3 linked regions of the Homo sapiens genome follow. The protein of the gene in region 2 interacts with the protein of the main gene of each other region in a biochemical or structural test. Each region holds a gene or a part of one and is shown on either strand. Other genes may lie near its edges.

Region 1 (7,026 bases), on a different chromosome or scaffold from region 2:
TCAGCGGCCATCCGGCTCTGACACCACATCCTGCTCTGCTGACCCGTACGGTGGCAGCCATCGCAGGGAAAAAGCCTCTGTCTTCATGCTCCCCCTCCTCCCAGTCCCTCCTGGTGTGTCATCTACATTGGGCCATGCCCCGCCCCAGCCACTCGCAGACACATCTAGACTTCTTTTCTCATGGTTATTCAAGAGCCTGATCATCCTTTCCTTCCCCTTTGCTGCCCGCATGGAATGACCTCTGAGTTCCTTCTTTTGATCCAGGTGGATTAGTGATTTCCTGTGTCATTTCCATGTCATTACATCATGTGTCAATTGCAGCATGCATTATAAATTACTTTCCCTCTACTGACCCCTAGACATGACAGTCAGGGTGTCAGGGCGCTAACCAGGAACTGTATGTGTGTTGGTTTCAGAGTCATAAAGGGGACACTGTGTTTTGTTGGTTTCTAAAAGGGACACTGGATCTGAGGCAGCTGAGACCCACTGTCCCTAGCCAGTTGGAGGCGGCTTGGCCATTTGGGTGATGACTCTGCGACAGCTAGTTCTCAGGCTCCCACCTCACAGTGTGGTCATCTGTGAATTACCACTAAGGACAGTCATTTCCCCCAAGCCACTAAGTAACATCCTGAATTTCACTGCTCTACTTGGAGGTATTTGCCTCTCGAGAATTATCCAGCAATTCTTTCCTTTTGATAGCTCCCAAGTGAAGCCTTCTCTAAGGCCACAAGGCTCTGAGCAACAAGCTCAAAAGTGACTTCAGCCCTGGCCAGTGGCAAGAGGAGTGCCCCAGCCCTATGAAGTCGGCTGTGTCCAGCCCTGGGGGAAAGAGGGGTTGAGGCCGACTCCTCGACTGGGCTCTGAGGCACTGACAGGGTCTCCTTGTGCTCACCCTCCCGCCAGGAGCCAAAGCACTGGCCTTTCCAGAGCAGGGCCTCCTGCCCCCGCCCTCACCCTGCCAGGCCACTCTGCTAGAGGCTCCAAGGCCCTGCTGCCCGCACCTCCCGGAGGCGGCTGTGACAAAGTCCAGGCCTCCTGTTAGAGCCAGCATCACAGCCAGCAAGAATAGGGCCCAGCTGTGTAAGCAAATGGCCTGGGAGCACTTAAGACGGACCAGAGGCCCTTCCTACTGAAAGACAGTGAACTGACCGTCACGGAGCGCGGGCTTCGAGCCTTGGCACGTGCACCTTGCTCAGCCTCTGTCAGGCCAGGGAGAATAAAGGACGCCAGACACAGCGGAAGCCTGTGACAGGCTGGAGGGGGCCCCCTGACCACCACCCTCCACAGTCTTCACCCACAGGCCCCCTGGAGCCACCCACAGCCACAACTGCCACCTGTCCGGCCTTACCATATGTGTGCTAGAAGGTTCTGGGTGAGGCCCGAGTGCATGAAGATCTCCTTCACCTCCTGGCCACTCACGTAGCCATCCAGGTCCAGGTCGGTCTTCAGGAATATCTCATCAAATCGCATCTTGTCTGCCACGGGCACCACCCAGTTCACTGTTGGCTGAAACAGTTTTTGGCAAAACAGTTAATCTGGAAGCTTTTTATGACCCCCAGACACATGCTTTTTGATGATGGGGCGATTAAAGCACTTCCATGCACATTTGGCATCAAACTCTCCTCACTTCCATGAGCCAAGAGGGCAGATGTGATCCTTGTTCTGTAACTGGCAAAACTGAGGCTGAGACAGGTTGAGGCTGGCTCTGTGAAGCTCACCCAGATGCCAGTCTGCACCTCTCTCCACCCCATCACCCGCTCTCCTTGTCCATCCACCCTGCCACCCAGGGTGTGAGGGAGGCTGTGATCTTCAGGGGATGGGTTCAAGCATGCCAGGAAAGACCCTCCCGAGCACCCACTTGGAAGGACCGTCCCTGGAGAACCGGCCCGGCCACATGCCAGCCTCCCTGGTCCTCCCACTCCTCAGCCCGCAAAGGCTGCCCTACAGGCAGCCAAAGTGTCCTGTCCCAGGACTCTGAAGACCACCCTTCTATGTCCCTGCCCCACTCCTGAGACAACAAAGATACCCCCAAGGTGTGAGTACACACACGTCACTGACAGGTAACAAATGAGACACCACCATCCAAGAGGGCCACCACCCACGAGGCCCCACCAACATTCATGCAGCCCCAACCCCACCAGGGCAGATGGAGCCACGAGCCCAGTGCAGCTCAAAGTTCACAGCCCTGGGGCTGGGTCACCCGCTGCACGTGCGACCCCTCTCGCCACCAGCTCACAGTTAACTTGAGAGAGGCAAACGCCATCATGGGTCAACCAGGGCCCGGTCACCTCCTGGTTCAGAGGCATTGAGGCCCCTCAGGCACTCAGGGGCAGGCCCCTTCCGTGGCCTACTCCACCTGCATTACCGCGGGCCTTCAATACACCCACCACGCCACAGTTCACGGCATCTGTGTCCTGAACTCTAGACGTGCTTTTCCTCTTCCCTTTTTTTTTAAATATTTACACAAATCACTCCTTTTAAACAATCTCATAATAGCAATGAGAATAAACACCTGATTGAATTATCTAGATGATGAGGGAGTGGAGAGAAAAAGGACAGGCAAATGTGGCTGGAGGGATCGATTGTTCCTTCTCCACGCAGCAACTGTACAGAAAAGCCACTCCACTCCTCACCTTCAATGAACGCCATGATGCCTGAAACTGCCACTCAAAGTCATTCCTCTCAGTTATGAAAGGATTTCTTAGGCTGGGTGCAGTGGCTCACACCTATAATCCCAGCACTTTGGGAGGCTGAGGTGGGTGGATCACCTGAGGCCAGGAGTTTGAGACCAGATTGGCCAACATGGTGAAACCCCCTCTCTACTAAAAACACGAAAAATTAGCCAGGTGTGGTGGTAGGCACCTGTGATCCCAGCTACTCAGGAGGCTGAGGCAGGAGAATTGCTTGAACCTGGGAGGCAGAAGTTGCAGGGAGCTGAGATTGTGCCACTGCACTCCAGCCTGGGCGACAGAGCAAGACTCCGTCTCGGGGAAAAAAAAAGGGGGGGGGGATTTCTCAAAGAGTTCTCACAGTGTTGACAACCCGAAGATGTCCATAGGATTGAGGAGAAGGGACTCATGGTCAAGACTGGGAAACAATGGTTAAACTCGTTTACTCTTCATGAACGAGTCTCCTGTGATGTCCAAATCTAACAGGCTCCTGATACCAACTCAGGGAAATCAGAAAGCAAGCTTGGGAAACAAGGGATACCATGTGACCCAGATCAGCTTAGTTCAGGGGTTTCACGTAGCAAGTATGTGTGATGAAGTACAGCAAGGACTTGATCAAACAATTTATCAAAATCCATGGAGCTAGGCCAGGCACAGTGCTCATGCCTGTAATCTCAGCACTTTGGGAGGCCAAGGCAGGAGGATCCCTCAAGCCCAGGAGTTCAAGACCAGCCAGCATAACACAGCAAGACCCCATCTCTACAAAATAAATAAATAAATAAAATTAGCTAGGTGTGGTGGCATCCACCTATTCCAGCTACTAGGGAGGCTGAGGTGGAAGGATCACTTGAGCCCAGGAGGTTGAGATAGCAATGAGCCGTGATTGCACCACTGCACTCCAGCCAGGGCAGCAGAGCAAGATCCTGTCTCTTATATATTTAAAAAAAAAAAATCTATGGATCTAATTCAAATGATGAGAGTTCAGATGGCAAGAGCAACCTGATTTTTACTTGTGGCATTGTACTGTGTAAATTTTGTGAGCCTTCTCAAGTCTGGTGGACGTAAAGATGCCAATAAAGGAATTCTAATGAGAAATGGGCTTGCTGCCTTTTAAGTCACGGAGCTACAGCAAGCTAACCTCAGAAGCCAGGGATCACAAAGAGGTAACAGGAGTCAGACAAGCTGAGCTGTGGCGGGACACAGAAACAAGGGGGGTTCTGTGTCCCACGGGTCCCAAGAAGAAATTACGTATGAAATTATAGCTCTGGGATGACAAGAGTCCTAATAATACTTGCTGGGCAAACAAAAGGAACTCACTGCCTGATTTCTGGAGCCTCAGAGTATGTTAGCAGCAAGATTCTGATGCCAAATTGACTATAAACCCAACACGGGGCAGCCTTGCCGTGGAGCTGGCTCTCCCAGTGACAGCTGGGCTTTAAGGCCGGCTCAGCAGCCACAGGTCCCAAAGGAAGGATATCAGACCCTGGTGGCTGGAAGTGGCTTCACTCAAACCTGGCATGAGGGCAAAATCGGGTGGCCCTTGGGAGGCCCAGACAAGAGCATTGCTGGCCTGGAGATGAGGAAGTTGGAGTAGGGGGAGCATGTGGACTGTAGGCCCCCAGAAATGCTCGTTTTCATGACTGTGATCCTACCAATGCCGTCGTGGGGGCAGGAGCTATACCCTCCCACCCCACCCCACCAGGGGCCACTGGTAAAATCGGTCTAGTCAGAGGGTCTTGAGAGAACCACCAGAAGATCACTAGAGAGGTGGGTTATGACGCTGGGTGACCTGTGCCTACCAGTGAGTTTGGCCCCACTAGCTTCGTTGCCAGTAAAGTACCTCCCCTAACCTGACTTTCAAAACTCTTGGCAAGAGCTCTGCAGACACAGGCTGGGCACGGTGGCTCACACCTGTAATCCCAGCACTTTGGGAGGCCGAGGCAGGAGGATCACTTGAGCCAAGGAGTTCAAGACCAGCCTGAGTAACATAGGGGAGACCATGTTGAAATAATGAGATAAATGAATACTTTTTTTTTTTGAGATAGAGTTTCGCTCTTGTTGCCCAGGCTGGAGTGCAGTGGCGCGCTCTCAGCTCACTGCAACCTCCGTCTCCCAGGTTCAAGCAATTCTCCTGCCTCAGCCTCCCGAGTGGCTGGGATTACAGGTGCGCACCACCACACCCAGCTAATTTTTTTGTATTTTTAGTAGAGACGGGGTTTCACCATGTTGGCCAGGATGGTCTTGATCTCCTAACCTTGAGATCTGCCCACCTCGGCCTCCCAAAGTGCTGGGATTACAGGCGTGAGCCACCGCACCTGGCCACAAGCATTTTTTAAAGACATTTCATCACAAGCTTGACCGTTCTGGGGTTGCATGTTAAGAACTCCCGAGAAACATCCTACTGTGCTCTGAGAGGGGGCTGTGCCCGCTGAGGGCTCCGTACCTGTGTTTGCTTGAGGCTGTGCTTGGGGGACAGGCTCCCTGTGCTGTTGAGGCTGCTGACGCTGCCGTGGGACGGCGTGGAGCGGAGGCTGTCTTTTGGTGGGGGGCTGGCAGGCAGGACGGGGACGGCGCCAGGGAACACAGTCTTCTTTCTCTTGGAGGGTGGGATGAGGGACGGGGGCAGGGCGGAGGGCACGGGCTCCTTCTCCAGGGCTCGGTACACCAAGTGCATGGCCTGCAGGTGCAAACAACAATGGCACTGAAGGGGCAAGGCTGGGGCCGGGACCATCAGGAGAAGGCAGAGGGCAGCCCTTTGGGGGCTGCAGTGACAGGACACTCTGTCAGGACGCTCCCAAGCTGACCAGAGTGAAAAGAAATCATTCCTCATGAGTTATCTTTTATGTGTAACTTTCCAAGACATGTGTTGAATTATTCCTCGAGACTGAAATGCACACAGAAAGAATCCAATCAAGCCAGACTCCATATGCATCCCTTCACCACTCAGGGAGGCCACCAGCTCCAGGGCTGGCACCTTCCCAGTACTGGATTTGGAAGTCTAAAGACACCAGAAGAGAGACCTGTACTTCAAGACGTTCAGGAGTAGTCCCAGCTACTTGGGAGGCTGAGGTGGGAGGATTGCCTGAGCCCAGGAGATGGAGGCTGCAGTGAGCTGTGATCGCGCCACTGCACTCCAGCCTGGGTGACAGAGCGAGACTCTGTCTCTATAAAACAAAACAAAACAAAACAAAAAACAGTGGAACTGAGGATGCATCCATGAGGCAGGCCACAGCCATAGAAATAAATTCCTTGTGGAAGGCCAACTAATAAAAGTGCAAGGAATGATGGTTTTGATTAGCACATCACCATTTGGCAGCCACCATCATCATAATTAATCTTGCCAGATTAAGGCGAGACTCATCAGCGATGGTGGAACTCTCATGGAAGAGTCTGAGAGTCATGGGTGTTGACCGTATCAAGGCGTGCCCCACATGAGATGAACTGAGCACAGAGGGAAAAAGAGCAACTGCCCACAGGAACCCACAACCTTGACCCACCTTGACCCAGTGATGAATGTCAACATGGCAGTAAGAAGACATGTTGACATCACGTTCCCCCAGGTGGGAGGCCCATGTGGGGCGGGTGTGACCTCCGTGGGATTCCTGTCTCACAAGAGTGCATGACCTGGGTCATCAAGAGGACCTGGCAGCCAGGCCCAGGCCTAGGAACACTCCATAACTGCTGGCCTGTGCTCTTCAAAATGTCCACGTTGAAACCAGGCATGGTGGCTCATGCCTGTAATCTCAGCACTTTGGAGGCCGAGACGGGCAGATCACCTGAGGTCAGGAGTTCAAGACCAGCCTGGCCAACAGGGAGAAACCGCATCTCTACTAAAAATTCAAAAAAAAAATTAGCTGGCTGTGGTGGTGGGCACCTATAATCCCAGTTACTTGGAAGACTGAGGCAGGAGAATCGCTTGAATCCAGGAGGTGGAGGATGCAGTGAGCTGAGATCATGCCACTGCACACCAGCCTAGATGACAGAGTGAGACTCCCTCTCAAAAACAGAACAACGACAACAAAAAAACAAAAAGTCCACGTCAAGAGACACGAAGAGCGATGGAGGAACTGTTCTAGATCCCAGGAAACGAAAGACAAAAGACAACAGGATGTAACACACAGGACTGGGTTCTCTTTAGACACAAGGAACATTTTTGGGACAACTGATAAAATCTGAGTAATATCCTGGGATTAGATAATAATAGACACGCTCATACAGAATATAAGGGGTATATACAGGATATAATGAAAACATCATAAATGCAATGCTATGATGTGAATTTCCTGATTTTGAAGTGGATAATGGTTATGTGTGAGAGAAGTCCTTGTTTTTAGGAAATACGCACTGAAGTGTTTGT
Region 2 (7,026 bases):
GAAAGGGTTGATAGGGGAGGGCTGTACATCCTGCAGAGTCTCATTCAGGAAAGGGTTGGTTGCCCTCCAAGGTGAAGCCTCAGTTACAGAAGGCGTGCGGTTTAAAGAGGAAATATCCAGCTTCTGAACTTTGGAGAAGTTCATCAAAGTGCTCTTGGGACGGTCCCTCTTCTTAAATGATCCCATTGAATTATAAGGTACATCTGGGATCACAGATGCACTTGGTGGTGTATTTGGCTTCAGAGGAGAGGTGACTGGTGGTAAAGGGCAGCTGACTTCATTGTCATCAAAGGTGACCCAGCTGGGAAAACGAGCAGAGGTCACTGGAGGGGCAGGGTGCCCATTCATGGCTGGACTGCTGGCCTGCCAGCTGATGGCCTCCATCTCTACTTCTTCATCTTCTTGAAGCGAGGAGGAATTGTCTAAAAGGAAAAGGAGAACATATGAGCTACTGTTCAGGGGCTCTAGAGGTAAGGAAAACTGAAGTATAGGAATGAGGGATTACTAGAATTTTAACTGGAATCCAGTACATTCCAAAGCAGCTCATTATCTGTTTCAAGTGCTTAGTCTGGGCATAGATCTCACAATTCTGTAATGAGCACCCCAGAGGAGCTATCGCATTAAGTGCAATAAGAACCCAATGGCTATATCAATACAGAAGTATTGACTGGTAGTACCAAGGTCTCTTGCAATTTATATACTCTTCCTTATTTTATAAAAGCTTCTGGAATAGATGTGTTCTGTACTTAGCTTTGAGGAATGTGTTCTTAATTTTTAAACATTGAAAGCCATCTCCTATATAAAATGATATAAGCTCATCTCACTGAAAAAAACCAAGTTATCGTCTGTAAGTGATAATATGATTATAAATAATATTCTTGGAGGGATTTTAGCCTAAACATAATGAATAAATATTAAAGACAAACAGTTAACCTTCTTAATATTCAGTAGGTTCATACATGTGAATAAGAAAAACACAAAAACCCCAAAAGAAGTCTGAGTAAAGAACATAGACAACTCATGAAAGAGAAACTAAAAAATGTCTAGTAAGTATGTGAAAAATATCGAATCTCACTAGTAATAAGAAAAATGGCCGGGCACAGTGGCTCATGCCTGTAATCCCAGCACTTTGGGAGGCCGAGGTGGGCAAATCACGAGGTCAGGAATTCGGCACCAGCCTGGCCAACGTGGTGAAACCCAATGTCTACTAAAAATACAAAAAAATTAGCTGGGCGTAGTGGCAGGCACCTGTTATCCCAGCGGCTTGGGAGGCTGAGGCAGGAGAATCACTTGAACCCAGGAGGCAGAGATAGAAGTCAGCGGAGATTGTGCCACTGCACTCCAGCCTGGGCAACAGAGCGAGACTCTGTCTCAAAAATGAAAAATGAAAAAAAAAAAATCAGTGAAGATTTTGAAAGATTTTAGTGCTCAATGAGGGTAAAGGTGCCATAATAGGAGCACTAAGTGGATGCTTAGTGAAACTAAGTTGCAACAGATGCTCTGAAAAGAGATTGGGCAATTTATATTAAGGATCTTAACACATGTTAATAAACAATGACTTAGTAATTCTACCCTAAGAAAATAAATCTAAATTATGAACCAAGTTTGAAGAACAGAGATGTCCATTTTGGCATTATTTATAATAGGGAAAAATATTTTAAATATTCAACAATTGGGTGAGTGTTAAGAAATTGAAGCCTACAATAAAATAATACCCACCCACTAAAATGTTTACAAGTAGGCAGTATATCAGGAGAAAATGCTCATGATATAATCTCCTTTTTTTCTCTAAAATATTTTTCCATCTCGAAGTTTATTTTTTATGATAAAAAGGTTATTACAAATAAAACTCCACTTTAGCAGGGCCTTCAAGGAAAGAGATACAGGACTTGGGTTTGATGAGGGCAAGATCTAAACTTTTTCAGTAACCTAAGGACCGTGGGTATCTGCTGGGGCTGTGGGAAGGGAGGGGAAATGAGGCTTTTAGCAAGGAGGAATGAATTCTGATGAAGGAACAGCACAGACAACAAATGTGTGCATATAGTAGGTACTCAATAAGGTTTTTTGATTAAATAAGTGAGAAAAGAAACTTTGCTTTAGAGTAGCTCTTCCATTCTCTACGTCTCTGCAGGAATGGGTATAGGGGATCTCTGCTACCATCCTACCCACTGTTTCTATGGCCAGTTGTTTGGAATCAAAGGGAAATGGATACTCAAATGACTGAGTTTTCTGACCACCTCACTACATCTTCATGCATATCACATCCAACCACACCCATCAGCAATGCCGCACATAATTGCACATAATTATACAAGGATGGGATGCTGGCTTGTCACCCATCTTTCCAAGTAATTTATTCAAACAGATAGCAATTCTCTCAAATGAAAACGTAAGTTTGAAAATGTAGGCTAGGCCGGGCACGGTGGCTCATGCCTGTAATCGCAGCACTTTGGGAGGCCGGGACGGGCAGATCACTTGAGGTCAGGAGTTCAAGACCAGCCTGGCAAAAATGGTGAAACCCTGTCTCTACTAAAAATACAAAAATTAGCTGGGCGTGGTGGCACAAGCCTGTAATCCTAGATATTCGGGAGGCGGAGGCAGGAGAAGTGCTTGAACCTGGGAGACAGAGGTTGCAGTGAGCCGAGATGGCGCTACTGCACTCCAGTCTGAGCGATAGAGCGAAACTCCGTCTCAAAAAAAAAAAAAAAAGAAAAGAAAAGAAAATGTAGGCTGTAGGCTAAACACGAGTATGCATATACATATACACATATCCATACCCACCCCAGAAACAAAATGAGCGAAAAGCATTTTCTATATCTACAGTGACTAAAAAGGATTCTAAAGCATTTTTAAATTAAAGATGAGAATCTCCTTCAAATTAAGCATGAATCCAGTTTTGTATAAGTGATTAATTTTCTGAAAATCGAAGGGAAAACGGTCAGGAAACAACCTACACTTACAGTATTTATATTTTATTTATCATTTTGGTAACAAAGTCTAAAAGGAACATTGTGGTCCTGAGTGAAATATAATCACTTCCTTGGAATGGTAATTGATCCTGTCTAGAGAACTGGGAAAGGGGTACATCTCAAAACTCATCAACTTCTAATGAGGCAGCTCTAGAGAGCCTTTGTGATGTAGTGTTTCCACCCAAACAATCTCTATTGGCCCACCCCTGGCATCAGGGTTATCCTTTTTGTCTTGGAGCTCACCCTGTAGTTTAAAACAAGCTGAAGTCCTTTTTCTTTGGAGGGCGGCTTTCTGCCAAAGCTGTTTACACTTGCCACCAAAGGATTCCCTTCTGTTGGGAATCTTGTCCTCAAAACAGCCCTTCTCATCTTCTAAGCCAAAAATGAAAAGAGAAAAAAAGGCCTTTGTCCCTACTGAAGATCATTTTCTTACAATAAATTCCTTTTCAAACCAAGTTAGTTTAAATCACGCCAAGTCCTAAACAGTTTTGAAGCATTAGAGTTATAATACAAATTAAACAAGTGTCTTTAAATTTGAAGGGAAATGTTTGAATTCAATTAATTTCTAGGGATTCTATTTTCTTTCTGACAGTCATTAAAAAATATCAAAAGACTTTGTTACAAAATTATCTTCCCTTTGGCAGTTTCATGTCCCATAATTGCATGTATTTTTAAAACTTATTCTCTGGGATGGTAGCAGGGCATAGGTAAAATTTCTGAAATTGAGATTTTGTTTTTCTATGAAATAATTTATTTAAAGAAATCTGAGAATTGTAAGAAATAAATTCTAAGAGTTTATCCTAAGGAAATAACAGGACAAGCATGCAACGATGTACACAGTGATGTTTATTACAGCAATGCTTCTATCACAGAAAAACATGAAAAAACCTGAATGCCCAACAATGGGAGACTAGTTACATCAGTGGTCATACCCTTAAAATGAAATTCCATGTAGCTGTCAAGATGATGCTCTTGATGCATGTTAATTCACACGGAAGTTGACTAGGACATATTGTTGAGTGAATAACAAGAAACACCTAAAATCTGCAGTCAAATTGCCTGCGTTTCAATTCCATACCTACGGCTTTTTAGATATGTGATTCTAGGCAAGTCTTAAATTTCCCTCTATCTCAGTTTTCCTATATATTAAATTAGGGAAATATTAAATCCTACCAGACAAATAATAAATGCTCAGTAGATGTAGGCTGTTCTTAGTACTACTGCTACTACTACTACTACTACTAGAATGATAATGTGTCATTATAGAAAGTACGTATGTATTAGAAAGCTTTGGAATATAATAATCTCGTAATATTTTGATGTGAAAACAAATCTCTCATGGGATAAGAGGTGATTTAAAAAATTCGAAATCTGTATTCTTTCTTTCAAAAACTGCAATGTTCCTTACAAAATAAAGCAACATAGCATTATAATAAAAGTTCAAAACATCTCTTTATTATTACTACTAATTAGCCTTAGAGAAAGGAAACAAAGTGCTTAGCTATAGTCTGTATTGAGAAAGCAGCAGTTAGATCTTTCCCAAGACAATTATGACTGGTGTGGCTGGGACTGGAAACAATGAGAGGGGGAAAAGCTGGCAAATTTCTCCAGTAAGAAATAGGCAAAAACCAAGTATCTTGATCACAAAGCTAATTCTTCTCCACAATTCAATTTACTAATTTATTAAAATAAAACCAAAACCCAAACTCCAGCATTATTTTAATTACTATCCCTTCCACTGGCTACCTCCAAATTGTTTTTATTATGAGTCGGGCTGCTGCCAAACAAAAGCCATGTGTAAGGATTAGGTTCTCAGTCTACACCACAGGGAAAATTTCCAGTACCTAAGAGGTTCCTAGTGTCTTTACTGATGCAAACTAAAGAGAAGTGGTGGATTCTTTTAATGTTAGGCCGCAATCTATTTCAAGCTCCTAAAAGATTAAATTAAATAAAGTGATTTCAGTAGTAGTCAAAGCCACTAAAACTGAATAAAAAGTAAGAACTATGGCAGGAAAATTGTCTACATTTTGAACATAGAGACTCTACTATCTTCTTTCCCTTATTTGTTAACCTAATTTGTAAAAAAACCATATTGACAAATGTTCACTGGAATTTATTAGGAGTGGCAAGAACAAATGTTCTAACATCACTGCAGGCTTCTAAACATGCAAGAGCAGTGACTGTTACATAACAGCATATAAAGGCATACCTCGTCTTTTTGTACTGCACTTTACAGATACTGCATTTTTTTTTTTTTTTTTTGAGATGGAGTCTCGCTGTGTTGCCCAAGCTGGAATGCAGTGGCGCTATCTCGGCTCACTGCAAGTTCCGCCTCCCGGGTTCAAGCCATTCTCCTGCCTCAGCCTCCTGAGTAGCTGGGACTACAGGTGCCTGCCACCACGCCCGGCTAATTTTTGTATTTTTAGTAGAGACGGGGTTTCACTGTGTTAGCCAGGATGGTCTCGATCTCCTGACCTCATGATCCGCCCGCCTCGGCCTCCCAGAGTGCTGGGATTACAGGCGTGAGCCACTGTACCCAGCAGATACTGCATTTTTTATGACTAGAAGATCTGTGGCAACCCAAAGTCTGTCAGCACCATCTTTACAACAGCACGTGCTCACTCTGTCTCTGGGTCACGTTTTGGTAATTCTCGCAACATTCAAACATTTTCACTATAATTATATCTGTTACAGTGATCTGTGATCTTTGATGATACTATTGTAACTGTTTTGGGGCACCATAAACTGTGCCCATATAAGATGGTAAACTTAATCAATAAAATGTGTGTGTTCTGGGCTGCTCCACAGTCTGGCCATTCCCCTATCTCTCTCTCTCTCTTCTTCAGGCCTCCTTATTCCCTGAGACAAAGCAATATTGAAATTAGGCCAATTAAGAATCCCACTATGGCCTCTAAGTATTCAGATGAAGAGTTATATGTCTCTTACTTTCAATCAAGAGTGAGAGATGAGTAAGCTTAGTGAACAAGGCATGTCAAAAGCGGAGACAGGCCAAAAGCTAGGCCTTCCATGCCAGTTAACCCAGTTGTGAATGCAAAGGAAAACTTCTCAAAGGAAATTAAAAGTGCCACTTCAGTGAACACATGAATGATAAGAAAGTAGTGACAACATTCTCTTAAGCCAGAGCCTAATTCAGAGGAAGGCCCTACCTCTCATCAATTCTATGAAAGTGGAAAGAGGTGAGGAAATTGCAGAAAAAATAAATAAATAAATAAAGCTAGCAGAGGTTGGTTCATGAGGTTTAAGGAAAGAAGCCATTTCCATAGCATAAAAGTAGAAGGTCAAACAGCAAGTGCTAATGTAGAAGCTGCAACAAGTTATCCAAAATATTTACCTAATATAATTGAGGAAGGTGGCTACACTAAGCAACAGATTTTCACTGAAGATAAAACAGCCTTTTACTGGAAGAAGATGCCATCTAGGATGTTAATAGCTAGAGAAAAGTCAATGCCTGGCTTCAAAACTTCAAAGGACAGGCTGACTCTCTTGCTAGTGGCCAATGTGGCTGGTGACTTTAAGTTGAAGCCATTGCTCATTAACCATTCAAAAAATCTTAGCACCCTTAAGAATTATGCAAATCTACCTTGCCTGTGCTCTGTCAATGGAAGAACAAAGCCCGGATGACAACGCATCTGTTTACAGCAGGAATTACTGAATATTGTAAGCCCAGGTTGAGACCTACCGCTCAGAAAAAAGAGGTTCCTTCCAAAAATATTACTACGCACTGACAATGCACCTGGCCACCCAAGAGCACTGATAGAGATGTACAAGGAGATTAATGTTGTTTTCATGCCTGCAGCCGTGGAACACAACATCCATTCTCTATCCCATGGATCAAGGAGTAATTGTGATTTTCAAGTCTTCTTATTTAAGAAATACATTTTGTAAGGCTGCCATAGATAGTAATTCCTCTGATGGATTGGGGCAAAGTAAACTGACAACCTCCTGGAAAGGATTCATCATTCTAGATGCCATTACAAACATCTGTGATTCATGAGAGAAGTTAACATTCACAGGAGTTTGTAAAAGTTGATTCCAA
Region 3 (7,026 bases), on a different chromosome or scaffold from region 2:
ACCCTCCAAGAGCGTTTTCTTATGTAAGTTAGATCCATCCATAGTTACCATATTCAAAATTAAAACTGAGAAATTTCTAAATTAGCTCAAAATACAATAGTAACTCATTACCTGTTAATACAACATATTTAATAAGTAACTATATTTTCCAAGACCAAAAAAATATATAGTAGACGTTTTCTCTAGTAAAATATCTAGTAAGAAGGAGGCCTTGTTTCACATCATTGCAAATCTCTTTAATGTGTGGTTTACTAGAAGGTAGCTAGAGTTTTATATCAACTTCGGTGTTCGGTCTGTCTGCAATACATTACTTTGATTGAAAGATGAAAGAAAATCCAACCTCACTCAGATATGTAACTGGAAAGGGGAGGGGTATTTAATAAAGCCTTTTCAGATCATTGTGGATATTTTTCTTTGATATGACATCACTGCTCCCCAAGTGGTAGCTTCTTAAAGACTGGCTGCAGTGGGGAATCTGAAACCTTGCACTTGGAATGCTTGTTTGCCTCTGTGCATGATTTTGTGACATCATTCATTTATCATTTCGAAGATATTGGCTTGCCGAATTGTGAAGATCTTTCAAATATTGATGAATTTCATTAAACAATATTAACAAATCACATCTATTACTATTCCCACTGATCTTATCACAAAAGTCCTTTTCATAGTAATATGTGTGAGTTTTCCAAAATTCTAATTTTTGCTTGAAAGCTTAAATTTTATCATTGGCCACAAATACTGCCAGTTGTTTTTCTGGAAGTGACGAGCTCACTTCGTTCATTTTTGCAAAAATGCCTGCTCAACACCCAAGTCTGAATAACTGGAGTTTGTTGGTTGTTCTTTCAGATAAAATGGTATCCCATGGAAAAATGGCTAGTTCAGCCTGCAACTCAAACAGATGCACAGGTGATGGGCACTGTTCAGTTGCTTGAGAAATTATTGTGTAATATTTCTGTAAGAAGCAGAAGTGCTTTATGTGTACTTCTCATTCCATCACAGAGAATATTAAAAAGATGTGCACTCCAGAATCAAGCTTCAATATAATTATAATCTTTGCTGCTTCATGAAAAGAAGACATTCTTAACTGAAAATGGCATTTCATTATTTACCAATTACTTTGCTTAGCGGGTGTGTAGTGTGGAAGAACACAAAGACGGGTGCAGTGTGATACTATTACCTTGATTCATGGTAAGGTGCCAGCAGCTTCACCCACCACTGCTTTAGCACCATCAATGTCAAGCATGGGAATGGCAAATAACTTTATTGCCATCATGGAAACTGCTTTGACCTTATGGACCCCCCTGAAAATTCTTAGGGACTCCCAGGGACCCGTGGCCCCCATCTTGATTACTGCTATAAGGTAAACTTCACAAGGGCCTGTTCCCTGTGTGTTACTGTCTCCATTTTCAGATGAGGACCCCGAAGTTCAGAAAGTTTAAGTAACTTGCCCAGGGTCACACAGGCAGGAAGTGGCAGTCTTGGTTTGACCTAGGCCATCTGACTCCCAGCCACACACACGCTGCTTCAGTTATGCCCTACAGAACATGCTGTGGGGGCCTCTCCTCTGCCCCTTCCCCATTGCCTCACCTCCTGAGGTCTTTGGGGCTCACGATCTACTCCAGGGGAGGCACGAAGACACCTCCAGGTTTGCAGTGGTGAGGACCTGGGCTTCTATTACTGTCTGCCCCAGGGCACCCCTGCCACCCTCTACCAGTAGGAGACCTAATGGGGGTGGAGCACGCCTCCCTGGGAAGCCTCAGACGTCTGGGGCTGGCTTGCCAATGGCAGGCTCAGTTCTTGATGCTTCCCTGCCTCCTGCAGCTGCAGCAGCAGCAACCAGCACAGTTCCCAGCATCAAAGAGCTAATCCAATTTCTCAGCTGTGCTTCCCCCTTCGCCTCCTGCAATGCCAGGATTGATTTGGAAACAGGGCAGCCTTATTAAAGTGATGCCTTTTCCTACTCGTGGGAGAGTCAAACTGGGAGAGGGAGCCCTCCCACAGCCAATTAACTCCATGCTTCCCGCTAACACTGATCCTAGCCACAGCCACCCTTGAGTTTCCTGGGGTTTACCTGTAACTCTTCTTAGCTCCTAGTGGTGAGGATGGATTTCAGTCCTAGGTCTGCTTCCCTCCAAGACCCAAGAGCACTTAACCAATAGGTTCTTGTTCATCCTTCCTGCACTTCTAGAGGGTTGCCTGGGTGGTCCCCTCTCCTCCTGCTTGCAGGCCTCCACCCCGTCTCCTAACATCCCATCTTAGGCCCTATGACCGGGCCGTCACTTGGTCCATCTGAGTTGGTACAATGAAAGATACATGGCAGACAGCCCCAAGAGGGATAGAGGTAAAGACCTGTACATTTGTTAAATGGGCTTTTCTCCAAATAAACACAGGAGGCAGAAGACAAGGACAGTCCTCAGAGACCTCTACCACCCTCAGCCCAAGCCCCTCTCCAGGCCCCCCTCCTTGCGGCCTCACAGCTCTCCTCTAATCTAGGGAGTTAAGGTGTAGCAGAAGCAGAGAAGGCCCCGCTCCAGAAAATGCTTCCTTTCTACAAATAGCATAAAAACTGCTTCCCGAGTCACTTTGTAGAAGAGGAAGGACATGCACAACACATCTGGATCATTAGTTCAGACTGGAATCAATGGTGAGGAAAAGAGATTTCTCTCAAACCACCCAGCCCTTAGGGAGCAGAGGTTCTCTGGGAAGGTCTTTGGAGCTCAGAGCACTGGCTGACCTTGGGGAAGGCATTTCTGGTCTGGAAAGGAAAAAATGAGCACCACCTCTTTGACGCTACCACCCTCCCACCCCCGGCCACCGCTCCCCTCCCTCCGCCGCCCATACACATGGCCCTACCCAGCTCAGCCCTGCAATACCACAAATGCCTCATTTGACTTCAGAGGAAAATGGAGCTAAGAGTAGGAGTGAGGAAGGGAGTAAAAAGAAGGGCGGGGGAAGGAACAAGTGGGGAGGGAGAGATGAAGGTACAAGGTACCCTCTCCTGTCTCTCACATGCACACTACTGCAGGTGGTTACAACTCTTTTCTGTTTCTCCACAGCTGAGCAGGAAACTGGGAGAAGAGCCCTTCTCCCCTGCAGCCTCTCCCTCTTGGCCTCCATCACCACTCTCCTAACCCCTGCCAAGCCCTGCATCTGATCCTACCTGAGCTAAAGAAGCAGAAGGTCCGGAGGGAGCCTGTGATTTTTGCCTCGGTCACCTCTTACAAATGCGGTGGGCTGCTGGGCTCGCCCTAACCCTGCATCACCCCCAGGCTGCTCCTTCAGTCTACTCGGGTATGGAAAGGGTTAAGCTCCTCCCATCCCCTCCTTCCTTCATCCCATTTCTCCATTCACTTCTATTTTCCCATATGCCTAGTGCCAAGCTCACAGTTACAACCACTTACACCCTGTATTAAGATGCATGGAATAGTAATGGGTAAATTCCGTCTCTAATTGCAATATTTCCTAATTACTAAATTCCAGAGCCACTGTATCAACCCAATTATGGCAAGTCCTGCCAGAGTTCTCCATGGTCTGAGGACTCCCTGCCTTACTGAGAGGCACCTGACAAATGCCTCGGGGGAGCTTTCCTGACTCCCCACCCAGCTGCTGTCCTCCCCTGGTCCCAGACTGTCCAGTGATGAGGCCCTTGGGCTTCTAGTTTCTCTGCAGGGGATGGGAGGAAGTGAAGCAAGCTTTGTGATTGAGGAAAGCCTTGTGTTGACAGGCGACTATCCTGGGGTTGGAGAGCATCTGGGAGCCCTGTCACTCTGCACCAGCCACCATCAATGCTCCCAGCTTCAGAACTCCACTTTGGGGGCTAGGGGGACCCAGGAGAGGAGGAGAAACAACATGCCCTGGCCTTGGGGAGCGCCCAGGCTGATAGAGGAGACACGGTTATTTTGAGTTCTCCTTTACATCCCAGGTGCCTTTTACAGAGTAGGTGCTTAGTGCATTGGAGTGGAACGTGGAGGAAAAGGCGGGAGGAAAGTAGGAAGTAAGGAAGGAATGGGGTGCTCTGGCTCAGGCTGAGTTTAGACTCTGGCTACACCTGCACGCAAGGGTTGACTTTTGGGCTGTGAGTCCCATAGGGATCTGACTTCTCAGGTCTGGAGTCTCCGAAGGAGAGAAGCAGTCACACACCCACTAACTCCCATTCTCCCTGCCTTTGCAAGGGGCCCTCCTCCCCAGCCCACCCCTAGGACCCTGAATACACACATATGCACACACACACGGCTGCTGGGCTTCAGAGGAGCCGTTTAATTGCCGAGTTGAAACCTGCAAGGGCTTTTGGTGCTGATGACATCAGCATGCCATCACAGATAGGGCTGCTGAGGCTGGAGCAGCTCTGGATTCAGCGGGGTGTCCCATCATGCACTCAAGACTGCCCACCCTGGGGCCTCCCTCCTTGCTTCAGAGCAGGTGTTCCTGAAGGAGGTGCCAGAGCCCTTATGGAGAGCCCAAGGAAACCCAACATCAGGGAGGGAGAGCTGATTCAATTCCTCCAAGGAATCACTGCCTAATTTTTGTAAAGGCTGCTGCCTGATTTAAATCACCCAGCCTCCTGCTTCTACTCAACGCGTTAGTGGCCTCATCCCAAGGACCCGCACCTGTATTCTCGGGCTCCATTTGCCATAGGTAGAGCTGGTGAGAAGCGGCGAGGAGAGGAGGAAGGGTTCTGACCACTCAGCTGCTGTGGCCTGGAAGGCCCCCTGCAAAGTGCCTATGATCTGGGGATTTTGAACAACCACACAACTTCTCTGGGGATTTTGAACCACACAACTTCTCTGGGCCTTTGCCCGTTCATTGTAAAGTGGGGACAGCGATGGCGTAGCCGAGGACTGCAGTGATGAGAGCTTGACCGCCCTTGTGAGCCGCTCTATCCCCGAGCAGGGGAGCAGGAGGCGCAGGGAGGAGCCCTGAGGTTCCCTGTTGTGCGGGACCCACACTGACTTTGCCCTTTCTTATGCCTGATGCTTAGTGTTACTGACAGCAAAAGCTGAAATCCTGAGGTCCCCGGCTAAAGTGACCAAGGAAGGGCCTCTCCTGACTTTACAGCAGCAGGTAACCCCCCTTTCTTTCAGATTTGGAGGCTGCTTGGCCATTTTAATGGACCCTGCTACTCACATCCTACTTCCCTAAGTGTGAGGGGCTTTCAGAATCTAACCTCCTCCCTGGCACTCAGCCAGCAGGGACTTTATCCTCATCAGAAAATGATCCAGGGAGGAAGCTTCTACAATATCTACTGCTCATCTTGGATTTTGGGAGTCCTTTTTTTTTTTTTGAGACCGGATCTCACTGTTTTCCAGGCTGAAGTGAAGTGGCATGACCATAGCTCACTGCAGTCTCGACCTCCTGGGCTCAGGCGATCCTCCTGCTTAACCTGGTGTGCCACCATGCCCAGCTAATTTTTAAATTTTTTGTAGAGACAGGGTCTCCATATGTTGCCCAGCCTGCTCTGGAATTCCTGGGCTCAAGCGATCCTTCTACCTCAGCCTCCCAAAGCGCTGGGATTACAGGTGTGAGCCACTGCACCTGGCCTGGGGAGTCCTTCTGGATGTTTAATTTTAGACCCAGCCTCTCTAGGGGAGGGGGCTGGCAGCTAGGTGTTCCCCTGCCCTCCAGGCTCACAGTGACTCTCAGGTCCCTCTGGGCCTGGATCCAAATTTACCCATCACTCTGGCTACTTCCTTGAACTGTCAGTTCCAGAGATGAAAATGAAGGATTGCTGGGACAAATCCTTCCCAGAAATCAAGCTTTGGCAAGAAAAGACTCATTAGGCATAAAAACCGTCTTCGAGTGAGGGGGATGAAATGCAGGACTGACCACCAAGACGGTGAGGGCAACTCCTTCCCTTGAGTTTTAAGAATATCAAAGGTGGACAGTGCTCCCTGCAGCTGGAGAACCCAAGACAGTGTTGTGTGTGTGGGCAGGAAAAGGAGCACGCAGGCCACCCAAGGATGAAAAGCACTTACTCCTCCCGCGCCAGGCACTGTTCTACACGCTTTACAGGAATTAACCCATTTCATCCTCACCAAGAACAATCTACGTCATAGTTACAAATTTTAGCTCCATTCTACAGATGGCAAGACTAAAAAACAGAGTGTGATTGACTCGCCCAAAATCACAGCAAGTGGCAGAACCAGGATGAACCCTGGCAATCTGGCTGTAGTCACTATACTGCCACTTAGAAAAAAATCTCTGACTTGATGTTTCTCCAATGAAACTATATTATTTATCACAGGCTTCTGGAGTCCAGGAGAAGCCATAACTGAATCCCAGCTTCTCTGGCCTGGCTTCTCTGACTGAGTGGAAGATGAAGAATCAACTTGTTGCCTATGGATGGATTATTCACGTAGGGAATTTAGAACTGCATCTGTCTGGTGGTCCAGGGGCTACTTCTAAAATAACACGAATAGTTATCAGTTCTACAATACTACCCTGAGAGTTAAGCATTATTACCTCTGTTCTTTAGAGAAAACTGTGCAGACATTGTCAGATCATCCTGTTACATGCTCTCGAAGCTTCCTACATACCTTCATAACTCTTGGCACAGTCATGATGAATTCTTTATGTAATTATCTAATTGTGTGGTATTCACTAGATTGTAAATGCCACGAGGGCAGGAAACAGGTCTGTTTTGTTCCCACCTGAATCTCCATTGCCTAGCACAGATTCTCAAAATGCAATAGTGGAACGAATGCAGAAGGGATGCTGAGTGGCTCAGTAACATGTGTAGGGCCTGCGGCTGTGCTCACCTCCCCACCCAGAGAGACTACAATAGTGGCACATGGTAGGTACTCACTAATAAAATACTTGTTGCAAATGTCAGACTTTGTACTTAGCAGCCCTGGGATTTGAACCCAGGCCTGTCTATCTCCTAGCCTCCATTCTTTGGTGCTTCATATTTAACCACTGCACTGAGTGACCCTGCCCCCCCATTACTCCCTCTGACTTGCTGTTCCAGTTCTTAAAGAGTATCCCCACCACCCTGGACCTTCAGTGGTGGGGATACTCTGGCTTCAGCTA

Evidence for each region. The genes of interacting proteins can lie anywhere in the genome.
Region 1: the proteins of STON2 (region 2) and EPS15L1 interact in a biophysical measurement, tested with the Homo sapiens proteins (one study listed by IntAct).
Region 3: the proteins of STON2 (region 2) and SYT2 form a complex in vitro, tested with the Homo sapiens proteins (one study listed by BioGRID).

The regions. Positions count from the first base shown.
Region 1 is NC_000019.10:16,419,971-16,426,996, forward strand, and holds part of EPS15L1 (epidermal growth factor receptor substrate 15-like 1), read right to left. Parts: intron 5,347-7,026; coding exon 5,113-5,346; intron 1,507-5,112; coding exon 1,349-1,506; intron 1-1,348.
Region 2 is NC_000014.9:81,278,318-81,285,343, forward strand, and holds part of STON2 (stonin-2), read right to left. Parts: intron 423-7,026; coding exon 1-422. UniProt on the Homo sapiens protein: Adapter protein involved in endocytic machinery. Involved in the synaptic vesicle recycling. May facilitate clathrin-coated vesicle uncoating.
Region 3 is NC_000001.11:202,700,455-202,707,480, forward strand, and holds part of SYT2 (synaptotagmin-2), read right to left. Parts: intron 1-7,026. UniProt on the Homo sapiens protein: Exhibits calcium-dependent phospholipid and inositol polyphosphate binding properties. May have a regulatory role in the membrane interactions during trafficking of synaptic vesicles at the active zone of the synapse.